Regions from separate parts of the Homo sapiens genome. Here regions 1 and 3 are each linked to region 2. The links come from fine-mapping of genetic effects on gene expression. A gene starts in region 2. Each other region holds a variant in brackets. All regions are shown on one strand. Distances are between the middles of the regions.

Region 1 (8,181 bases), 21 kb after region 2:
TCAGCCCATAACAATCACTCTATTTATTATTAGTTTACTAATTAATTACAAATGGCAAATATACTTCTACAACAGAGACGTCTAGCAGACATGAATAAACTTGCAGTCACCAATAATAGAACAAACTGACATTATATGCCTCTTGATGTGATACAATAAGAAGTATATAAAATTACCTAAGTAATATTCTCGCTAAAAATGTTTAACCTTGGCCCTGATGTGGTGGCTCATGCCTATAATTCCAGCATTTGGGGAGGCCAAGGCAGGAGGATCCCTTGAGCCCAGGAGTTTGAGACCAGCCGGGGCAACATAGGGGGATCTTGTCTCTACCAAGTAATAACTTTTTAAAATTAGCAGGGCATGGTGGCATGCACTTGTAGTCCCAAGCTACTCAGGAGGCTGAGGCAGGAGGATGGCATGAGCTTTGGATGTCAAGGCTGCAGTGAACTGTGATTACATCACTGCACTCCAGCCTGGGTGACAGAGCAAGACCCTGTATCAAAAAAGAAAAAAAAAAAAAAGCTTAACCTGAACCTAATCACAAGAAAACAGATAAATCAGATTGCAAATAATGTCCTGACTCTTCCAGTAGAAACACCACGAAAAATTCACACACACCCACATGGCAAAGGAGCACAGCACTTAGGTGCAGTGCTGCAGAATCCTGTCCCACGCATTGCAAATGAGCTTGTTCTCGGTCTTGGGACACTTGTGGATGTACCCTGTATCTTCACAGTACTTGATTTTCACAGTAACTGGTTGCCAAGGAGAAAAACCATAAAGGCACCTATAATCCCAGCACTTTGGGAGGCCGAGGTGGGTGGATCATCTGAGGCCAGGAGTTCGAGACCAGCCTGGCCAACATGGTGAGACCCCGTCTCTACTAAAAATGCAAAAATTAGCCGGGACTGGTGGTGCATGCCTGTAATCCCAGCTACTCAGGAGGCTGAGGCAGGAGAATCGCTTGAACCCAGGAGACAGAGGTTGCAGTAAGCCGAGATAGTGCCACTGCACTCCAGCCTGGGTGACAGAGCAAGATTCAGTCTAAAAAAAAAAAAAAATTAGTTGGGCGTGGTGACGGGTGCCTGTAATCCCAGCTACTCAGGAGGCTGAGGCAGGAGAATTGCTTGAACCTGGGAGGGAGAGGTTGCAGAGCCAAGACCATGCCACTGCACTCCAGGGTGGGCAAGAGACTCTATCTCACAACAAACAAACAAATAGAAAACATAAGGGGTACAATTTCACAAAATCATTAGGTTTTAAGATGAGTGTGTGTATTTGAAAGTTTTGTGATGATTGTTTCTTTTCTTGTAGGTTGAAAGAAGCTCAAAGGCAAGAATGTTACTTTTGAATTCCCAAAGTTTCAATTGTAAACAAAAATGACTAAATAAAATATCATTCACAGTTTCATGTTTGTTTGTTTGTTTAGACAGAGTTTGGCTCTTGTCGCCCAGGCTGGAGTGCAATGGCACGATCTTGGCTTGCTGCAACCTCTGCCTCCCAGGTTCAAGTGATTCTCTTGCCTCAGCCTCCCAAGTAGCTGGGATTACAGGCACACACCACGAAGCCCGGCTAATTTTTGTATTTTTAGTAGAGACGGGGTTTCACCATATTGGCCAGGCTGGCCTCCAACTCCTGACCTCAGGTGATTCGCCCACTTCAGCCTCCCAAACTGCTGGGATTACAGACGTGAGTAAGCCACCGTGCCTGGCCTGTTATAGCATTTTAATTTGTTTTGTTTTGGTTTTTGACACTTTTTTTTTAACTGATCTTAAGATGTTCCAGTTGCTTCTACAATTTTTATCAAATTTTTGCATCTAACAATCAAATTCAGATCTTTTTTCTTTAAAATCGAATCTACTTTCACTCCTGCTACAATACAAACCCCTTCTCTCTTCCTTGAGGGCTGTTCTCTGCTGCCTGCCGTCTTCCTTTTCTGTTGTTTCCTTTGCATTACCTTCCACCTTTCTGTACCCTTTCTCAACTCTGAATCTCAGCTCTCTCATACTTTCCTCTCCAGTGTCTCTTAGGACATATTCTCAGCTAGCTGTAGGATTTCCTTCCACTCCTATTCTAAGATGCTCTCCCATGTGTTAACGAATGACTGTCGGAAACAGCTTCCCGGCCTCACTCTAGGGGAAGTTACATTTCACTGTAGGGGAGGCCTCTTTCAGATCTCATTGAACAGAAACAGCCTAAAATAAAAGATCTGCTTGATTCAAAGCCAAATTAGTGATTTTCCTCAATCGACAAGTCATCTGTAAAGTCTAACATTTGAAATTTCAGATGTTTTAGAGTGAAAATTGTAATTTTTAGGTGAAAATGGTATATTCTCCCTATTCTCATTACCTAACAGCACACAAGTTCATTACTCAAACCTTCTACTCAAAGATTCTCCTATGACCATGGGGAAAATAGAAATTTAGGCCGGGCACTGTGGCTCATGCTTGTAATTGTTTGGGAGGCCAAGGTGGGAGGATCACTTGAGCCCAGGAGTTCGAGAACAGCCTGGGCAACGTAGTTAGACTCCATCTCTACAAAATATTTTAAAAATTAGCTGGGCATATTGGCACACACTTGTAGTCTGAGCTACTCGGGAGGTAGAGGCTGCAGTGAGCCATGATTGCACCACTGCACTCCAGCCTGGGTGACAAAGCAAGTGATCCTGTCTCAAAAAGAAAAAGAAAAAAAAAAAGTCCAGGCGCGGTGGCTCAGGCCTGTAATCCCAGGACTTTGGGAAGCCGAGGCGGGCGGATCACCTGAGGTTGGTCGAGGTCGAGACCAGCCTGACCAATATGGAGAAACCCTGTCTCTACTAAAAATACAAAATTAGCTGGGTGTGGTGGTGCATGCCTGTAATCCCAGCTACTTGGGAGGCTGAGGCAGGAGAATTGCTTGAACCCGGGAGGCAGAGGTTGCGGTGAGTCGAGATCGTGCTATTGTACTCCAGCTTGGGCAACAAGAGTGAAACTCTGTCTCAAAAAAAAAAAAAAGACATGGCTTTTCCAACTTAACTTTGACCTTTGTAGTAATGGACTCATAATTAAAAATATATCCCAGGAGACTGTATGGCAGTTATGAACATTCCATTGATCATCAAAGTGAAGACAGCTTGTCTTTCATGGACAGAACGAGAGCAAAAGAGGGTAACAGCAAGGCAGAGTGGGTTTCAATTTAGACAGAGACTAATGAATAGTCAAGAGCACAGGTTCTGTAGTGAGCACACCTGGGTTCAAGCTATGATTCCACTAGTGACCACCATTGAGTTAATTAGCTCAACAACCTCTAGGTAACTTACCAATCCCCCTCTAAGTCTCAGTTTTCTCCTCAGTAAAAGAGGGAGTATAATAGTACTTATCTCACAGAATTGATTAAATGAGATACAGAGTGCCTGGCACCAAGTAAACTCTCAATAACTGTTGATTTTAATAATTATTAACATTTCTGTTTTCCCTTTATCCTAACATTTTTGAAAATATATCACCTGTGGCTGGGCACAGTGGCTCATGCCTGTAATCCCAGCACTTTGGGAGGCCGAGGCAGGTAGATGATCTGAGGTCAGGAGTTCAAGACCAGCCTGGCCAACATGGTGAAACCTGTTTCTACTAAAAATACAAAAAGTTAACCGGGTGTGGTGGCAGCCTCCTGTAGTCCCAGCTACTCTGGAGGCTGAGGCAGGAGAATTGCTTGAACCCAGGAGGCGGGGGTTTCAGTGAGCCGAGATTGTGCCACTGCACTCCAGCCTGGGCAACAAGAGCAAAACTCCATCTCAAAAAAAAAAAAAAAAGAAAATATATCACCTGTGCATTTGAGAATATGAGACGTCCTAGTACATTCTCATCAAGAGTTAATATTTAATATTTTCCTAGTGATCTCATGGCTTTATTTATTTATTTATTTATTTTTTGAGACAGAATCCCACTTTGTCACCCAGGCTGGAGGGCAGTGGTGGAATCTCGGCTCACTGCAACCTCTGCCTCCCAGGTTCAAGCGATTCTCCTGCCTCACCCTACAGAGTAGCTGGGATTACAGGTGCACACCACCACACCTGGCTAAGTAGCTGGGATTACAGGTGCACCCCACTACACCCGGCTAAATTTTGTATTTTAGTAGAGACGGGTTTCACCATGTTGATCAAGCTGGTCTCGAACTCCTGACCTCAAATGATCCACCTGCCTTGGCCTTCCAAAGTGCTCAGATTACAGGCATGAGCCACCACGCCCAGTTAGGCTTGTGTTATTTTTTAGAAGTTTAAATGAAAAGCATATAAAAAGAAACACATGTTGGGCACAGTAGCATGCACCAGCTATTGGGGAGGCTGAGGCAAGAGGATCCCTTGAGTCCAAGAGTTTGAGACCAGCCGAGGCAACATAGTGAGGTCCTGTCTCTAAAAAGAGAAAAAAGAAACACAGAAAGTCTATAACCCTTGAGAAAGTAAACACTAGCACCTCATTTTCAGGTAAAAGGCAAATCTATTGCCTAAGCTAGGGTGCTGCTAGGGTGAAAACAACACTGAAGGCATTAGGCCTTTCTGCTGAGAACTAGATCCTACCAACAATGCCCTGGACGTTGAGAACCAACAATTTTATGGACGAGGCCTGACTGATGGCCAGTGTCAAAATGTGTGTGTGAGTGTGTGTGTGTATGTTGAACAGCTTGATAAGACAGCTGGCTTGGGGGTTCAGGTCTGTCGCCTATTAGCTATGTAAATTTGTAGTAAGTACTCTCTGAACCTGTTTCTTGTAAAATGGTGA[C/T]GCCACTAATCTAACTTGGCTACAATCAAATTATCTAATATCCAGGCCATATTTAATTTTCCCAAGTATCCTGTTAGTGTCCAGGATAGCATTTTTTCTTCTGACCCAGATCATACTTTGCATGTAGTTGTCATGTCCCTAGATTATTATTATTTTTGAGACGAAGTCTTGCTCTGTCACCCAGGCTGGAGTGCAGTGGCACCATCTCGGCTCACTGCAATCTCCGCCTTCCGGGTTCAAGTGATTAATGTGCCTCAGCCTCCGGAGTAGCTGGGACTACAGGCATGCACCACTACACCCAGCTAATTTGTGTATTTTTAGGAGAGACAGGGGTTTCACTATGTTGCCCAGGCTGGTTTCCAACTCCTGAGCTCAAGGGATCTGCCGTGCCGCTTCGGTCTCCCAAAGTACTGGAATTACAGACATGAGCCACTGCGCCCGGCCAAAAAAAATTTATTTTTAAGTGGCACGATCTCAGCTCACTGCAACTTCTGCCTCCCAGGTTAAAGGGATTCTCCTGCCTCAACGTCCCAAGTAGCTGGGATTACAGGCGTGCGCCACCAAGCCCAGCCAATTTTTGTATTTTTAGTAGAGACGGGGTTTCACCATGTTGGCCAGGCTGGTCTTGAACTCCTGACCTCAGGTGATTTGCCTGCCTCATCCTCCCAAAGTGCTGGGATTACAGGCGTGAGCCACCACACCCGGCCTTATTATTTTATTATTATTATTTTTTGAGATGGAGTCTCGCTCTGTCCTCCAGCCTGGAGTGCAGTGGCGCAATCTTGGCTCACTGCAACCTCTGCCTCCTGGGTTCAAGCAATTCTCCTACCTCAGCCTCCCAAGTAGCTGGGACTACAGGTGCGCATTACGATGCCCAGCTAACTTTTTGTATTTTTAGCAGAGACGGGGTTTCACCATGTTGGTCAGTCTGGTCTCGAACTCCTGACCTCGTGATCCGCCTGCCTGGACGACAGAGAAAGACTCTGTCTCGAAAAATAAAAAATAAAAAAAAAAAATAATAATAATAATACCTAAATTGATGCACATAAAGTGTTCAGAACAGTTACTTCCTGCACAATAAGTGTTCACAAATTGCTACTTACTATAGAAGGGAAATTCTTGTGAGATGTGAGTTTCAGAATCTGTGTTTTAGCTAGAAAAGAAATTCACTTATTTGATCATAAATGATTTTTGGCCCGGCATGGTGGCTCACGCCTGTAATCCCAGCACTTTGGGAGGCTGAGGCTGGTGGATCACGAGGTCAAGAGATCCAGACCATCCTGACTAACACGGTGAAACCCCGTCTCTACTAAAAATACAAAAAATTAGCCAGACTTGGTGGCGGGCGCCTGTAGTCCCAGCTACTCGGGAGGCTGGGGCAGGAGAATGGCGTGAACCTGGGAGGTGGAGCTTGCAGTGAGCCGAGATCGGGCCACTGCACTCCAGCCTGGGCGACAGAGCGAGACTCCAGCTCAAAAATAAATATAAATAAATAAATGATTTTTTTGGTCAGTGTTTACTAAATATCTACAATTATGCCAGCTACTGCAGTAAGAATCAAACAGTTCCTGGATGGAAAAACAATTTTAAGATATGATCACTGACCTCAAACAGTTTACTGGAGTGAAATTACTAAAATATGTGAATCAAGGTAGAGTTACGTGCCGCTAACTGGAGTACACATGAAATTCATGTTGATGGGAGCGGAGAGAAGGAAGTAAGCAGTCTGTGCTGAAAGAGAATGGATAAAAATTGACCAGTCAGGGAAGGGGAGACGCATAATTCAGGCCAAAAAAAAAAAAAAAAGCCACTTGAGTAAAGGAATAATACAAGATTGATAAGACGAGCGTAGAGGGAACTAAGAACAAATATGTGCCCAGGCGCGGTGGCTCACGCCTGTAATCCCAGCACTTTGGGAGGCCAAGGCGGGAGGATAACTTGAGGTCAAGAGCTCAAAACCAGCCTGGCCAACATGGTGAAACCCCGTCACTACTTAAAAAAAAAAAATAGCCGGGCGTGGTGGCATATATCCGTAATCCCAGCTACTCGGGAGGCTGAGGCAGGAGAATCGCTTGAGCCTCGGAGGTGGGGGTTGCAGTGAGCCGAGATCACATCACTGAAAAAAAAAAAAAAAAGGCAGGGTGGGCACATCACCTCAAGTCAGGAGTTCAGGACCAGCCTGGCCAACATGGCGAAACCCTGTCTCTACCAAAAACAAAAAAAATTAGCTGGGTGCAGTGGCGCACGCCTGTAGTCCCAGCTTCTTGGGAGGCTGAGGCAGGAGAATCGCTTGGGCGGGGTGGGGGTGGGGGTGGGGGTGGGGGCGGAGGGGCGGAGTTTACAGTGAGCGAAGATCATACCACTGCACTCCAGCCTGGGTGACAGAGCGAGACTCTGTCTAAATAAATAAATAAATAACAAATAGGTGGGTGGGACCAGATTATGGGTGGCTTAAAATCCAGGTATACCAGCTGTCTTCCTGGAAATAAAGAGGAGCCACTTTAGTTTTGAGAATGTGGTCTGAGCCAGGTAGATAAACTGGGAGCTCGGGCTGAAGTGTAAGACTTCAGAAAGATGTTCCATACGTGAATGTTCATTTAAACGTGGGGGTGTTAAGCAACACACGTGACCCAGAGACATTTCACCTGGAAACCGGAGTAGGGCCCACGCACCAAGTCCCTGATGTTTAATTGCAGTCTAGAATGTTACTGACTAGTTCACTCAATTTAACAAAGTGTCCGGAGGTCGCTCACTGGATTGTTATGCTGGTGACTGGGCCTTGTTTCACTGAGAAAAAAAGATGGGAAAGGGTGACAGGACGGTGAGAAAGTGAAAGGGAGAGAGGTGGGAAAGGGGTCTGCCAAGGTCCAGGCGAGGTTGGGGGTCGGGGGTCCGGCGGCCCTCAGGGCCCCCCCCGCCCCCAACTCCGGGGTTGGCGCCTCGGGCGCGGCGCGTGTGCTTGCGGGCGGGGCGCCCCGCGGCCGCGGACGGCCAATCCGGGAGGGCGTCCGGGGAGGGGCGGGGCTTGCCGGCTCGGGCTCCGCGAGTCCTCCTTTTTGCACACACACGAATACAAAGAGCCATACGACCTTCGGGTATCCTTTTTCCATTTTTTTTCCTCCTTAATCTTGTGTGTGTTTTCAAATTTTTTAAAAATAGAGATCTGTAGCAGTGTTGGGGTGAGGAAACTGTTGCTAAGGGGAATTTGCTCTTTCCCCCATTTCTTTTTCTGTCTCTCTTCCTCTTTCTTTTTCCTGGTCAAGGTTTTAAATATACCAAGAAGTTGAGAAGCAGGATGGCCGTGTACAACCGTTTCCGGCCAAATTTATAGTTTTTTTTTCTTTTTTTTAAATCACATTTTAAGAACTGGTAGATTTTTGTGGTTGAGGGACTTTAAAAATTTAGCCGCTTGGGAAGTACAGAATTT
Region 2 (8,181 bases):
CAGACTGGAGTGCAGTGGCACAATCTCTGCTCACTGTAACCTCTGCCTCCCGGGTTCAAGCAATTCTCCTGCCTCAGCCTCTAGAGTAGCTAGGACTACAGGCGGTGCCACTACGCCTGGCTAATTTTCTGTATTTTTAGTAGTGACAGGGTTTCACCGTGTTAGTCAGGATGATCTTGATTTCCTGACCTCGTGATCCGCCCACCTCGGCCTCCCAAAGTGCTGGGATTACAGGCGTGAGCCACCGCGCCTGGCCCACAGAACATTTTTAAGCAGGTGAGTGTTAAGATCGAGATGATGTTTTAGGCTGGGCGCAGCGGCTCACGCCTGTAATCCCAGCACTTTGGGAGGCTGTGGCGGGCAGATCACCTGAGGTCAGGAGTTCAAGACCAGCCCGCCCAACATGGCAAAATCTTGTCTCTACTAAAAATAGAAGAAAAAAAATTAACTGGGCCTGGTGGCGCACGCCTGTAATCCCAGCTACTCGGGAGGCTGACGCAGGAGAATTGCTTGAACCTGGGAGGCAGAGGTTGCAGTGAGCAGAGATCGTGCCACTGCACTCCAGCCTGGGCGACAATAGCAAAACTCAATTAAAAAAAAAAATGGTGTTTTAGGAAAACGAATCTGATGCTGTGCAGAATGAATTAGAGAGTGACAATTTAGACCCATAAATCAGTTAGGAGAAGGCCAGGCATGGTGGTTCACACCTGTAATCCCAGCACTTTGGAAGACTGAGGCAGACAGATCGTCTGAGGTTGGGAGTTCAAGACCAGCCTGGCCAATATGGCAAAATCCCATCTCTACTTAAAATACAAAAAAAAAAAAAATTATCCAGGCAATTCATCCTGGCTAACATGGTGAAACCCCATCTCTACTAAAAAATACAAAAAAAAACAAAAATTAGCGGGCATGGTGGCGGGCGCCTGTAGTCCTAGTTACTCGGGAGGCTGAGGCAGGAGAATGGCGTGAACCCGGGAGGCGGAGCTTGCAGTGAGCCAAGATTGTGCCACTGCACTCCAGCCTGGGTGACAGAGCGAGACTCCGTCTCAAAAAAAAAAAAAATTATCCAGGTATGGTGGCACACACCTGTAGTTCCAGCTACTTGGGAGGCTACGGCAGGAGAATCACTTGAATCCAGGAGGTAGAGGTTGCAGTGAGCCAATATTGCGCCACTGCACTCCAGCCTGGGCGACAGAGCGAGACTCCATCTCAAAAAAATAAAATAAAATAAGGAGAATATTTCAGCAATTCCAGAATGAGGACATAAGAAGCCAAAGGTGGTATCAGTTGTAATGAAAAAGAATGTGAGAAACACTGAAGTGGAAATAATCAACAGGACCATGCAACTAACTGGATATGAAGGAAAGAAAAAAGCTGTAAAAGATAAGCAAGGACTTCAAGCCTTTTTGACTAGAAGACCACTGCTGTCATTCTTTCAGGTGTTCATTTGGCAAATATGTATTAAGCATACAGTGGGTACAGAAATGAATAGTAAGTACTTGTATTTAAAAGCTCACAATCCGGTAGGAGATAAATGTAATTTCTAACCAGGTAAAATGTAAAAGGGCCTTAAGAGAGGTACACATGCTATCAGTGGCAGAGTGAAAAACCACTGGAAGGAGGCAGAAAGACTAGTTGCACTGCAGGGGTGACTGCAAAATAATATATGCTCAGTAAACAGACGCACTCCGCATTTTCCACATCATCCAAGTGTGAAACACAAAGATCTCCTGTTTAATTCTATTCTGATGATTGGGCTTGGAAAGGGTTGCCAATTTCAGCATTAAAAATACAGCATAGGCCAGGCGCAGTGGTTCACACCTGTAATCCCAGCACTTTGGGAGGCCGGGGCAAGCGGATCACCTGAGGTCAAGAGTTTGAGACCAGCGTGGCCAATATGGTGAAACCCCATCTCTACTAAAAATACAAAAATTAGCCAGGCGTGAGGCCGGGCACGGTGGCTCATGCCTGTAATCCCAGCACTTTGGGAGGCCGAGGTGGGTGGATCACGAGGTCAGGAGATCAAGACCATCCTGGCTAACAAGCGGATCACCTGAGGTCAAGAGTTTGAGACCAGCGTGGCCAATATGGTGAAACCCCATCTCTACTAAAAATACAAAAATTAGCCAGGCGTGAGGCCGGGCACGGTGGCTCATGCCTGTAATCCCAGCACTTTGGGAGGCCGAGGTGGGTGGATCACGAGGTCAGGAGATCAAGACCATCCTGGCTAACACGGTGAAACCCCGTCTCTACTAAACACACACACACACACACACACACACACACACACACACACACACACAAATTAGCCTGTTGTGGAGGCAGGCGCCTGTAATCCCAGCTACTCGGGAGGCTGAGGCAGGAGAATCGCTTGAACCTGGGAAGCAGAGGTTGCAGTGAGCAGAGATCGTGCCACTGTGTTCCAGCCTGGGGGACACAGCAAGACTTGGTCTCAAAAAACAAACAAACAAACAAACAAAAACAATACAGCATATGCAGAGTCTGCTGGGGGAAAGATGGGGCCGAACTGGGCATCAGAGGAAAGTGGAATTTCGGTGTTGATAGATGTTGCTGCTAGAATCCAACAAGGAAGGCCAGAGACTGACTTCATAGAACCATAAAGCAGGAGGCAACATTTCATACATATGCACACTTCCCGGTTTGTTATAGTTCCCAAAAGATTTGAAAAATGAAGGTGGGTGGAGGGAGGAAGAGGCAATGAAATATAGTATGTTCCTGAATAAAAGGCATCATCTTAGCAAGTTGAAGTTAGAGAATCTCTTGGTACATATTTATGCAGTCTCAACCGTCCTCCCGTCTCTGAGATGGTAAATTACTACTGACACTTATTCAGGTCTGAACTGAGAATCTAGTTTGTGGATTAACTGGACCCTTTGCTTTTTCTTCTTCCATCTGCCTTTTAGGCAATTCATTACTTATTCGAATTTCCACCAGAAGGTAGGAGTCAAGAGAACGAATATTGGATATTAATAACCGGTTACTGTTAAAGAAGGGTTGCTGTATGGCGACTGACAACAAGAGGTATAGCACTTTTATTTTGTTGCGTTGTTTTACCACTAATTGCTGTGGTTTAACTAATATAGGGAAATGGCCTCAGAATGGATCATTATTTTACCCAATTTTAGAAGGTGCCCTTAAACAAGATGGCAACCTCAGGCGCGTTAACAAGGTGCTGAAGCAGCAGCGATGTAACCTGTTGCTTGGACACCAGGCTGGAGTGGGAGGACTCACCGCTAAGGGTTCAGAACCGATTTTCAACCAGTCACGCCCTTCTCAAAGATGGCCGACCTCACTTCCCTTACGCAACATGGACGTTTTCAGTCACTTCCTGTGATTTTGAGGTTATTCTGATCCAGGACTACTTGCATGACCAAAGCCAAGATGGCAGGTACGTCCTTTTAGAATTTAAGGTTAGTGAAGCCATCTATTTCCCCGACCCCCTTCAGTGAAAATGGTCTTTCGCATCTGGCTCTTCTTTTTGGAGGCGTGCTTGCCAGCAGTCAAAATGGCTCCATTCCGGAATAGATTTAATAGGAAGTGAAGCTGTGACGGCGAGGCGTTGCCCGGCCTATCTTTGCTAGGCGTTCTCAGAATTAGTTCTTTCTGCCCACACTAGACATGGCGCTTGCCAGCGTGTTGGAGAGACCGCTACCGGTGAACCAGCGCGGGTTTTTCGGACTTGGGGGTCGTGCAGATCTGCTGGATCTAGGTCCAGGGAGTCTCAGTGATGGTCTGAGCCTGGCCGCGCCAGGCTGGGGTGTCCCAGAAGAGCCAGGAATCGAAATGCTTCATGGAACAACCACCCTGGCCTTCAAGGTGTGGAGCCAGCCCCCTTGCCAGGCTGAGTACTGAACGCCCGCGACTTGCCTGGCCTCCCAGCCTGACCGGAGTTTGCGGTGGCCTTGGCCACCAACCCAGGCGGAGGCTGGGTCCTCTCGTTCGGACCGCAGCAGTTTTGCTGTCTCATTGGCCCAGGAGGCCCCTGTCTTTGCTCTGGTTGGAAAGGGTGGCGGTGGGGCCGGGGGTAAGTCGGGGGAGGAAGGTGAGGCCTCTTGGGTTGATTCCTAGGCGACCCCAGGTTGCTGCTGTTCAGGATCTTCTAGCTGGGAAAGGCCGCAACAACAATGAATCTTGGCCGAGGGAAGGCTATTGTAAACGTTTACCAAAGTTTTGGAAACTGGGCGGCCCCTCAAGGCAGGGGTAACTGAAACTGGCATGAAGGGGAAGCGTGGTGAGGGTAAGCATTGTACTAAGAATCAGACATTTGGGGTTCCTTGCCCAGCTCTGCAATAACTAGCTCTAGATTGAGAAATCATTTGATTTCATTGAACCTGTTTCCTCATCTATAAAATGATTTGTTTTTTTTTTTTTTTTGAAACAGGGCTTTTCGCTGTCGCTCAGGCTGGAGTGCAGTGGCTCCAGCGCCTCAGCCTCCAGAGTAGCTGACACTATAGGCACACACCACCACGACAGGCTAAGTTTTTTTACTTTTTGTAGAGATGGATCTCCCTGTGTTGCCCAGGCTGGTCTCCAGCACCTGGCCTCAAGCGGTCCTCCCGCCTTGGTCTCCCAAAATGCCTGGGTTACAGGAGTGAGCCACCACGCCCATCCTATAAAATGAATTTAATATGGGTTATATCCATGTCAAGGGATTGATGTGAAGCTCGGGTGACATTAATATATGGTGAAGTATAGAAGTATACTGTGAAGTATAAAAGGACGGAGAAAGAGATGTGCTGGGTTTGGATTGATGCAAAAAGAAGTATGTAGGAGTGTTTTTGTGGTCTTATGTGGCCTGTTTTGTGTTTTCCTCTGATCTTAACAGTTCCGCCATGGAGTCATAGTTGCAGCTGACTCCAGGGCTACAGCGGGTGCTTACATTGCCTCCCAGACGGTGAAGAAGGTGATAGAGATCAACCCATACCTGCTAGGCACCATGGCTGGGGGCGCAGCGGATTGCAGCTTCTGGGAACGGCTGTTGGCTCGGCAATGTCGAATCTATGAGCTTCGAAATAAGGAACGCATCTCTGTAGCAGCTGCCTCCAAACTGCTTGCCAACATGGTGTATCAGTACAAAGGCATGGGGCTGTCCATGGGCACCATGATCTGTGGCTGGGATAAGAGAGGCCCTGGTGAGTTAAGCTGCAACCACATGATCCTTGGGCTGACACTACAGTGAGGAGGGGTTGGATGGACAGATGAATTAAAGGGCTTGGTGTCAATGCTGAAGAAGTGTAATTAGGTCCTTAGCCCTTCCTTCTCTCTTTTTTTTTTTCCTGTTTTTTTAGACTGTGTCTCATTCTGTCGCTCAGGCTGGAGTGCAGTGGCATGATCTCAGCTCACTGCAGCCTCCGCCCCCAGGTTCAGGAATTCAAGACCAGCCTGGCCAACATGGCGAAACCCCATCTCTACTAAAAATACAAAAATTAGCCCGGCGTGGTGGCGGGCGCCTGTAATACCAGCTGCTCAGGAGGCTGAGGCATGAGAATTGCTTGAACCCAGGAGGTGGATGTTGCAGTGAGCAGAGATCGCGCCACTGCACTCCAGCCTGGGCGACAGAGTGAGACTCTGTCTCAAAAAAAAGAATTTAAGAATTCGTTGAAGGCCGGGCGTGGTGGCTCACTCCTGTAATCCCAGCACTTTGGGAGGCTGAGACAGTGGATCACGAGGTCAGGAGATCGAGACCATCCTGGCTAACAAGGTGAAACCCCGTCTCTACCAAAAATACAAAAAATTAGCCAGGCGTGGTGGCAGGCGCCTGTAGTCCCAGCTACTCAGGAGGCTGAGGCAGGAGAATAGTGTGAACCCAGGAGGCGGAGCTTGCAGTGAGTCGAGATGGTGCCACTGCACTCCAGCCTGGGCAACAGAGCGAGACTCTGTCTCAAAAAAAAAAACAAAAAAAAGAATTCGTTGAATCCCACATGTGGCAGTAGTGCTATTTCAAGTGTTCATTGACCATGTGTGGCTTGTGGCTACTGTATTGGACTCTAATATATGGTTGTCCCTCAAAAGTTAGTCATTTCTCTTCTGTTTTTTTCTTTTTTTCTTTTTTTGAGATGCAAAGTTTCACTCCGATCGTCCAGTCTGGCGTGTAATGGCATTGTTTCAGCTCACTACAACCTCTGCCTCCTGGGTTCAAGTGATTCTCCTGCCGCAGTCTCCCAAGTACCTGGGATTACAAGCGCCCACCAGCATGCCCAGCTAATTTTATATTTTTAGTAGAGATGGGGTTTCACCATGTTGGCCAGGCTGGTCTCGAAATCCTGACCTCAGGTGATTCACCCGCCTCAGCCTCCCAAAGTGCCAGGATTAAAGGCGTGAGCCGCTGCACCCGGCCTCTTCTCTTTTTTTCTTTAGAGAGTCTTTGGCCTAGAAGGGGCCTTTTGGGCTCCTCTCTTTTTTGAGGGGGTGGGGATGGAGTCTCGCTCTGTCGCCCCGACTGGAGTGCAGCGGCGGGATCTCAGCTCACTGCAATCTCTGCCTCCCAGGTTCAAGTGATTCTCCTGCCTCAACCTTCCATGTAGCTGAGACTACAGGCATATGCCACCATGCGCGTCTAATTTTTGTATTTTTAGTAGAGACAGGGTTTCACCATGTTGGCCAGGCTGGTCTTGAACTCCTGACCTCAGGTGATCTGCCCACCTCAGCCTGCCAAAGTGTTGAGATTACAGGAGTGAGCCATTGCGCCTAGTCCTGGGCTCATTTCTTTTATTTCTTTGCTGGTTATAATCACCCTTACAATCATGCTAGGTCCGGTTCTATCATCTCTGAAAATAAGTTCCTTAGCCTGTTTTTCCTTTCCAGCATTTAAGAAACTTGCCAGACAGTTCAACTTTGTATTTAATGTCATTTCCTCATCAGCCAGTTTTGAATTGCCCGTTTAGTAAAGTTGGAGTATAGCTAGTCACCTTCTAATTTTCCCTTCCATATGCTTAAAAATAATTATTCTTTCCTCCTTTTGATTTTGCTTCATTCATTTACCTGCTTACTAAATACCTAGTTATCTTATAGAACAATTATAGGGTACCTACCACTTTTTCACTTGCTTTCAAACGAGAATAGAAAGGGCTGTAGGGAGTATCCACTTACTACCCAATGGAGGATGAAAGGAAATTAAAAACCGGATGTGAGAGAGGAGCTCACTTTGTTACTTTGGAAATTGAGATGCTTTTCTCTGAAAGGTGGGAAAAGACAGTTCCATACATTTTACGTGATCCAGGGAAGCATTTTGGAAATGTTGCTTTGAACCTTTAGCTGGCGGATTTGTTCTAGGTGATGGAAACAGTGTAAAAGAGTACAGGGACCGGGTAACAAGGAAAATCCAGGGAGACTGAGCATCATTTAAACAGTGCCTTCTTCAAGAGGCCTTCCTGATGACCCTGTCCCATTCATTGTGAGTCAGCCCCTTGCCTCATATTACAGTTGGCCCTTGAGCAACATGGGTTTGAATCACTCAGGTCCACTTATACGCAGGTATTTTTCAACCTAATTCTGATTGAAAATACACATTCCCAGAATTTGAAACCCAAATATACAGAGGACCAATTTATTTATTTATTTATTTATTTATTTTTGAGATGGAGTTTTCCTCTTGTCACCCATGCTGGAGTGCAATGGCGCGATCTCAGTTCATTGCAACCTCCACCTCCTGGGTTCAAGTGATCTCCTGCCTCAGCCTCCCGAGTAGCTGGGATTACAGACACCCGCCACCCTGCCAGCTAACTTTTGTATTTTTAGTAGAGACAGGGTTTCACCATGTTGGCCAGGCTGGTCTTAAACTCCTGACCTCGGGTGATCCACCTGCCTCAGCCTCCCAAAGTGCTGGGTGGCGTGAGCCACCATATCTGGCCAACTTTTCATATATGCAGGTTCTGCAGGGCCAACTTTGGGACTTGAGTGTGCATAGATTTTGGTATATGCAGGGGTCTTGGGACAAATCCCCTTCATATACCAAAGGATGACTAGTTAACCCAAGGCTGAATAAGATAAATAACCTTTTTTTTTTTTTATTGAGACGGAGTCTCGCTCTGTCGCCCAGGCTGGAGTGCAGTGGTGCCATCTCTGCTCACTGCAAGCTCCGCCTCCCGGATTCACGCCATTCTCCTGCCTCAGCCTCCCGAGTAGCTGGGACTACAGGTGCCCGCCACCACGCCCGGCTAA
Region 3 (8,181 bases), 32 kb after region 2:
GAGCGCCGCCTTCAGCCCAAGTTCTCAAAGCTCTCGGGGCTACGTAGTCTACCCTCCCCGGTGACCCGGCGAGATCCCTAGCCGCTCCTCCGGCCGCTCTGCTCTCCGCATCCCTCGCGGGAATGACCCCCTTTACCCGGGACTCCCAGAGCGCACTGTATGGTAGGGCACAGTGGCGAGTCACCCTGTCCCCTGAGGCCTCTTGAGCAGTCGCCGATCTCTGCTTCCCGCGTCGCTGCGATCGCCTTTCCCGTAGCTGAATCACACTGACCCATCGGAAACGGTTCTGCCCTCCCTGGGGTCCACCTTGTCATCCTTGACTAATATTTAATCAACTAACATTTACCAAGTTCTCGCTGGCACGAGTTCTAGGAGCTACTTTTTCATTTTTCAGTTTCTCCATAAATGCAGTGGGTCCTTTAGGCAAACCTGAAATCGGAAATATTAATCTTACCAATGTAATCTTAGCAAATGTAAATAAAAAGGACTGTGCTATACTGGGCTAAAAATTCTCATCCTGCTATAGAAATATACGTGGAATTTTCAGATTACGTGGAATCCTTTAAAGACCGCATTCGGCCTTCTGGGTCTACAGCTCTCTTTTTTACCCCTAAAAATAAGGTCTTGGATTTTTTGCAGACCATTAGTCGAGTCACTCTTTTAAAATGTGGGAAAATAGTATTTTGTGGTATTTACTTAGCTGCTCTTGTGTGATAAGGAGCTCATTTCTGATAAAAATAGGTTTTGAGAGAACCTTTTGACAGGTGAGCCATTTTGCACCTTGAAGTGGAGGAGTAGGACTGACCAACACAGCAGGAGCTTTAAGTGGCCGTTTTCCTTATTTATTTCTTAAAATGAAGATTATGATATGAATTGCCATGCTTTCAGTAATCACATTTAAGGAAGTCTATTGCTAGCATGACCCTGAATGAGTCAAGCACCCATTATAAAAACATATATCATCTGAGTGATACCATATCATACACATCTATTAAATAGTGAGAAAACTTTTATTTTTCATAGTTTGGAGGTGAACTCAGTCATGCAGAAAATTCAAACTCAGAATGGGGAGAAAGCAAGCAAGGGAACTGCCAAGAGTATGATATATTTAGTCCTAACAAAAATGTGACTTGGGAGGAAAGGGATAGTTAAAATTATGGACAGTCTTACCCTGAACTGTCTGTCTAAAGGAGATGAATTGTCTTTCTTTTTTATCTAAATATTTATGAAAAATACCAAAAGTACTGGAAAGTACATTTTTAAGGCTCGTTTCACATTTATTTAAATTAGACCAATACTGAAATGAACCCCAAATGCTTATATTTTTTGCAAACCTAAGTGTGACATCTACTGTCATGTTGTGTTGGCAACGCATCCCAAGATTGAAGATCTTTTTCTCTTTTTTAGACCTAGTCAGTTGTTTTCAGGACTTTCTACTTAAACATGTTGCCATCATTTGAAATTTAAAATGTTAAATAAATACACTTCTTCTCTAATATACTGGTGTCTCCTCTTTTTATTTATTTATTTTTTAGAGACTGGGTCTTGCTATGCTGCCGAGGTTGGTCTCAAACTCCTGGGCTCAAGCGATCCTCCTCCTCCCAAAGTGCTGGGATTACAGGCATGAGCCACCATGCCCAGCCATGGTATTTCCTCTCAACTGCCTCATTTCTGTCATTCTGGTGGTGGTGGTGGTACCATCCTGTTACTCTTAGGCTTATAACCTTGCAGTTGTCTTTAACCAATTATCTCTATACCCCATCTCTATAACTCTGTCAATTCTCCTTATCTTACTATATAAGCGCCTTTGCTCTGACCTCTGACATGTACCCTGTTAAGTCCTGTAATTTTTTTTTTTTCCTCTAGAATGTCTTACTACCCTATCAGTTAATCCTATACATTGCTCAAGGCTCAACTGGAAGCTTTTCTTCTGTAAGAACTCTTTCTCAGTATGATTTCATTTTGTTAATGTTTCCATTATTTTGAACTAACGCCTCAGAAATTTTTCAGTCTATACCATATTATTAGGACTTGTGTGTATTTCACTTTGTTATTTATTTGTTTGTTTATTTATTTTTGAGACGGAGTTTCACTCTTGTTGCCCAGGCTGGAGTGCAGTGGTGCGATCTTGGCTCATTGCAACCTCCACCTCCCGGGTTCAAGTGATTCTCCTGCCTCAGCCTCCCGAGTAGCTGGGATTACAGGCATGTGCCACCACACCCAGCTAATTTTGTATTTTTAGTAGAGACAGGGTTTCTCCATGTTGGTCAGGCTGGTCTCGAACTCCTGACCTCAGGTGATCTACCCGCCTCAGCCTCCCAAAGTGCTGAGATTATAGGTTTGAGCCACTGCACCTGGCCTCAATTTGTTTTTTAGATAGTCCATGTTTAGAACATCCCATATTCTTTAGACATTCCCATCTGAAATACACTTTAAGTGCCTTATAGGTAGAGACTTTGTCTTCCTTTCATTTGAGTAGTGTGCAATGCATTTTGGTGAGTCATCCTTTAACATGGACTTACATATAAAAAACTTTTGGGCCTGGGCACAGTGGCTCACACCTGTAATCTCAGCACTTTGGGAGGCCAAGGTGGGCGGATCACTTGAGGTCAGCATTCATTAGTCAGGTGTGGTGGTGCATACCTGTAATCCCAGCTCTTCGGGAGGCTGAGGCAGAAGAATCGCTTGAACCTGGGAGGCAGAAGTTGCAGTGAGCCGAAATCGTGCCACTGCACTCCAGCCTGGGCGACAGAGTGAGACTCTGTATCAAATATATATATATATATTTTGGCCGGGAACGATGGCTCACGCCTGTAATCTCAGCACTTTGGGAGGCTGAGGAGGGCGGATCACAAGGTCAGGAGTTCAAGAGCAGCCTGGCCAATATGGTGAAACCCTATCTCTACTACAAATACAAAAATTACCTGGGAGTGGTGGCACATGCCTGTAGTCCCAGCGACTCTGGAGGCTAAGGCAGGAGAATTGCTTGAACCTGGGAGGTGGAGGTTGCAGTGAGCCAAGATCGTGCCTCCACACTCTAGCCTGGGCGACAGAGCGAGACTCTGTCTCAAAAAAAAAAAAAAAAAAAAAAAAAAAAATATATATATATATATATATATATATATATATATATATATATGAATATATTAGCCTAAAAATATCTCACCCCACTCACCAGCTCACCTTCTTTTTTTCTGAGCCGGAGTCTCGCCCTGTCTCCCAGGCTGGTGTGCAATGGTGTGATCT[T/C]GGCTCACTGCAACCTCTGCCTCCTGGGTTCAAGCCATCCTCCTGTCTCAGCCTCCTGAGTAGCTGGGATTACAGGCACGCGCCAGCATGCGCGGCTACTTTTTTTTGTTTTGTTTTTTGTATCTTTAGTAGAGACAGGGTTTCACCATGTTGGCCAGGCTGGTCTCGAACTGACCTCAGGTGACCCGCCCACCTCAGCCTCCCAAAGTGCTGGGATTATAGGCGTAAGCCACGTGCCTGGCCCAGCTCACCTTCTTTAATGGGGGTATATGCAGCTAATGAAATTAATGTTTTGTTTTGAGTCATTTATCCAGCACTTAAGTAGTTACCTGGTTAGTAAATATAATGTGAAATACTCGTTTATTACCTGCTGATCCCAATATCTTTCCATATCTTAGAGTTTAGGTGAGAGACTATAGCAAGAGGCTGGGAAATGAAGTCAGCAATAGTGTCCATGGAAACCAAAAAAGAATTCTTTGAATGCCCATTGTGCTAGACCACACTGTACCTAGTTTTTATAGGCAAATTAATTCAGGAAAACACCTATTTGTTGCCCTGAATGTGATGTTTTAAAATGGACATAGTATGGTAACATACAAAGTAGAAAAACAGAAGAGCAATTGAGGAACAAATTGAACTCACAATAGGAAAATACATTTAGCATTAAAAACTAGCATAAAATATTATCCTTAGTCTGAGACCAGGTCATGATAGCAAGTAAATTACAAATACTAAATTACCTTTCTAATTTGCGTCATAGAAGGTTTTGTATCTATAAATGCATCCTCATAGACTTGAGGAATGTGTTGTTTGTTAGAAATTCAATATTAAATTTGGGGGCAAATTTCCCCAAATTCTATTTCAAGCCATTGCATTTTATTCAAAATTAGGGAATCAGGAATCAAGGTGGTGGCTCGCACCTGTGATCCCAGCTACTCAGGAGGCTGAGGCAGGAGGATGGCTTGAGGCCAGGAGTTGAAGACCAACCTGGGCAACATAGCAAGACCCCGCCTCTTAAAAAAAAAAAGATTAAGGAATCAGGGTGGGTGTCCAGGTTGGGAACACAAAATGTTACAGGAATAACCATAATATCATCCAGCCGTTACTAGTGGAGCACTGACCATGTGCCAGCACTCTATAGGTGCCTTACATATATTATGTATAATCTTCACAAAAACCACTCAAAGTAGATAGTGATGAAGAAACTTGGTCTCAGAAAAGTGAAATAATTTACTAATGTTCACACAGCTCATAAATGGTGCAGCCAGAGGAGAACCTCATTTTTTTTTTTTTTTTTTTGAGATGGAGTCTCGTTCCATCACCCAGTCTGGAGTGCAGTGGCGTGATCTCGGCTCACTGCAACCTCTGACTCCTGGGTTCAAGCAATTCTTCTCCCTCAGCCTCCTGAGTAGCTGGGATTACAGACAAGTATCACCATGCCTGGCAATTTTTTTGTATTTTTAGTAGAGATAGGGTTTCACCATGTTGGCCAGGCTGGTCTAGAACTCCTAACGTCAAGTTATCCACCCACCTCAGCCTCCGAAAGTATTGGGATTACAGGTGTGAGCTACCACGCCCGGCCACCCTTTTTTTTTTTTTTTTGAGACGGAATCTCGCTCTGTCGCCCAGGCTGGAGTGCAGTGGTGCGATCTCGGCTCACTGCAAGCTCCGCCTCCCGGGTTCACGCCATTCTCCTGCCTCAGCCTCCAGAGTAGCTGGGACTACAGTCGCCCGCCACCACGCCCGGCTAATTTGTTTGTATTTTTAGTAGAGACGGGGTTTCACTGTGTTAGCCAGGATGGTCTCCATCTCCTGACCTCGTGATTCGCCGGCCTCGGCCTCCCAAAGTGCTGGGATTACAGGCGTGAGCCACCGCCCAGCCCTTTTTTTTTTTTTTTTTTTTTTTTTTTTAACCTGCAGTACAGTGCTGTTTTGGAAAGATGACCAAGGAAGGACGACCAAGGAAAGACTATTTAAAGAAGAAGGAGCTGGGCGCAGTGGCTCACACCTGTAATCCCAACACTTTGGGAAGCTGAGGCGGGTGGATCACCTGAGGTCAGGAGTTCAAGACCAGCCTGGCCAACAGCGCGAAACCCTGTCTCTACTAAAAATATAAAAATTAGCCATATGTGGTGGCACGTGTCTGTGATCCCAGCTACTTGGGAGGCTGAGGCAGGAGAATCACTTGAACCTGGGAGGCAGAGCTTGCAGTGAGCCGAGATCTTGCCATTGCACTCTGGCCTGGGCAACAGAGCGAGACTCCGTCTCAAAAAAATGATAAATAAAAATAAAAGAGAGGGGAAGAGCTTGAGGCAGGCTCAACACTGGTAGGGGTAAAAGCCTCTTGCAAGAAAGAGTAAGTGCGTGAGGCAAGAGAGTTTGGTACCAGAAAGGAGTTAGACAACTCAGCCAGTGTCCCAGCCGGATGCATCTTAATTACTGATTTTACAAATACTGAACCCAGCTGGCAAGCATTTGAATACTATTATTTATTATCACCAAAACATTCTTTTGCCCACAGCATCTATGTTTAAGAGCAAACTCCCTGCATGATGTAGGTTAAATAAAGAATTAAAAAGAAAAAGCTCTGCAGGAGCAGTGTAGGCCCTTATTTAGGAAGGAAAAGAATACATAAGTGATTCATCTATAAATTGACATAGAAGTGCTTAGTGCTTTCCTTTAACCTTTAGTTTTAATTTGGTTTAACCTTTAGTTTCAGGTTTAGCTGTGCCTCCCAGTGACTATAATGACAAGGAAGCTGTAAATGTATTTGAGTTAAGCTTTTGCGAGAAGTAAGTATCTGGCACAGAAAAAGCCATTTCTTCGATATAAAGGGTGGAAAGAGCAAATTAAAGACTATTCTTTAATAACCACATGTAATTAAAATGCATTGTCAGATTTATGTTTTAGTACCTCAGAGGCATTGATATTGCCTCTTTCTGAAATGAGATTGCCTATTCAAAAAGAAAAAAGAAAACCCTCAATATATAGAAAATTCTCTTAACCTCCTACTCTTTTTTTTTTTTTTTTTTTTTTGAGGTGGAGTCTCGCCCTGTTGCCAGGCTGGAGTGCAGTGGCACCATCTCGGCTCACTGCAACCTTTGCCTCCCGGGTTCAAGTGATTCTCCTGCCTCAACCTCCCGAGTAGCTGGGGTTACAGATGCCCGCCACTACGCCCGGTTAATTTTTGTATTTTTAGTAGAGACAGGGTTTCACCATGTTAGTCAGGCTGGTCTCAAACTCCTGACCTCAGGTGATCGGCCCACCTCAGCCTTCCACAGTGCTGGGATTACAAGCGTGAGCCACCATGCCCGGCTCCTCCTCTCCTTTTAATTGTGATGTTTTAATTTACAGGGTAAGAGAGAAATGCATCTCTCAGAGAAATTGTAAACATACTTAAGGTTTTGACATGGCACATCAGAAGGATTTTTTTTCTATCATCAAGTATTATTTAGAAAATTACAATATTTATTAAGTTCCCGGGAGTGTTCTCAGTGGTACAAATCAACTTCTTTACCCCTTTTTTTCTCTCCTGGAGTAGTTTAGTTGCTTAACTACAGTAATTTAAAAGAAAGGCAGTTTGGTTTATTACTGACATTCTGGTTTCTCCTTTAATGGGGGCTGGTCATGCAGGCAAAGTGACAGCATAGCTGTTCAAACATTCCTGTTGAATTTTGGATCCACCCTTAAGGAGCTTGAGAAATGAAGATAAGGGGCCCCACGGGTGATTTCTCTGGGCTCCTGGCTGGAAGATTCAGGACAGCTAGTTTCCATTACAGAGGCTCATGGCCCAGGTACACGACTATGTGGGAAAGGGGGCTGTGCAGCCCTGGGTTACCCCAGCTCAATTCCCTGATCTTTTCATTTCATTTCCCTGCCCTCATCCCCAAAGCATTAATGATATAATATAACAGTGAGAAGTTGGTGACATGCTGAGGGCTGCAGTGATGGATGTATTCCTTATTTAGGAGTGTTACTCTGAATGCATTTGTATGAAAATTACAGAGAGGGTAGAATCATGATTGTCATGATTGTTAATGTCAACAAAAAGTGGTATCAGTTAAAAAAAAATACAACACTACATTGAAAGTAGCAATAACTGGATTCTGCTGTTATTCCTCTGACCTTGAAAAAGACATATAACTTCTCCACATGTCTCTTCTCTGGACCTGGAGTAATATGTTTCCTAGTGCTGTTGAGTAGATGAGGTAACTTATGTGAAGTGTTCTGAACACCTTAAGGAACAATGTCAAAGCAATGAAATGCAGTACCATTATTACAGTAAAGATGGTGAGGAGGAGGAGGAGACAGATCTACATTTTCTTCCTTAATCTTCTAATCTTTCCAGATGCCGGAAGGTCCTTCTGAATCCCTTCCCTGTTCCTTAGGTTGCACTAGTCGGGGGTTCCATGCTGGGGGGCAGAAGGAATGCTCTCTACCGTCTGAAACCGTTCATCAGGAAGGCCTTGATTTGTGATGTGCTAGGAGAGCACAGGATCTGCAAATAGAAGGCACCTGTCTCCCTTCTGCAGGCCGAGGAGAGGCCGCCATGGACTGTGTGCTTCTTCATGGCTTGTTTACTCTTCTTTCACAGACCCTACAGCTTGGGGCCTGGGCTCCTCTGACCATCCTCATTGAGAAAGGAAAGTGAGTCCAGAGAAGTTGATGCTTCCTACCTGTTGGAGCGGCCCAGCAGTGTAAGCGTGGTTGTTACTGCCCCATCCGCCATGTCCTTCAGTGCCACCATTCTCTTCTCCCCTCCCAGTGGCAGCGAGGCCAGATGCTGCTGCTGCGCCTGTAAGAGTGAGACTAATGGAGGCAACACAGGCTCCCAGGGTGGGAATCCTCCTCCCAGCACCCCCATCACAGTGACTGGACATGGCTTGGCTGTTCAGAGCTCAGAGCAGCTCCTGCATGTTATCTACCAGCGGGTCG

The links. PIP is the estimated chance that this variant, and not a neighbour inherited with it, causes the effect.
Region 1: its variant is fine-mapped to the expression of PSMB5 in transverse colon (GTEx, PIP 0.97).
Region 3: its variant is fine-mapped to the expression of PSMB5 in subcutaneous fat (GTEx, PIP 0.98). The same link has a PIP of 0.9 or more in thyroid.

Annotation. Positions count from the first base shown.
Region 1 is chr14:23,009,769-23,017,949 of GRCh38, reverse strand. C14orf93 (chromosome 14 open reading frame 93) reads left to right here and starts at 7,807. Exons shown (of 7, transcript NM_021944.4): 1 at 7,807-7,849. RefSeq lists a silencer at 7,469-7,818. The variant C/T (reference allele first, on the strand shown) is at 4,755.
Region 2 is chr14:23,030,340-23,038,520 of GRCh38, reverse strand. It overlaps PSMB5 (proteasome 20S subunit beta 5), which reads left to right and starts at 3,621. Exons shown (of 3, transcript NM_002797.5): 1 at 3,621-3,837; 2 at 4,847-5,153. The coding sequence starts at 3,640. RefSeq lists enhancers at 3,147-3,441, 3,226-3,895, 2,696-3,895.
Region 3 is chr14:22,998,816-23,006,996 of GRCh38, reverse strand. C14orf93 (chromosome 14 open reading frame 93) reads left to right here. Exons shown (of 7, transcript NM_021944.4): 2 at 7,595-8,181. The coding sequence starts at 7,974. It overlaps LOC124903286 (a long non-coding RNA gene), which reads right to left and starts at 4,571. Exons shown (of 2, transcript XR_007064075.1): 1 at 3,614-4,571; 2 at 1-429. RefSeq lists an enhancer at 1-356. The variant T/C (reference allele first, on the strand shown) is at 3,247.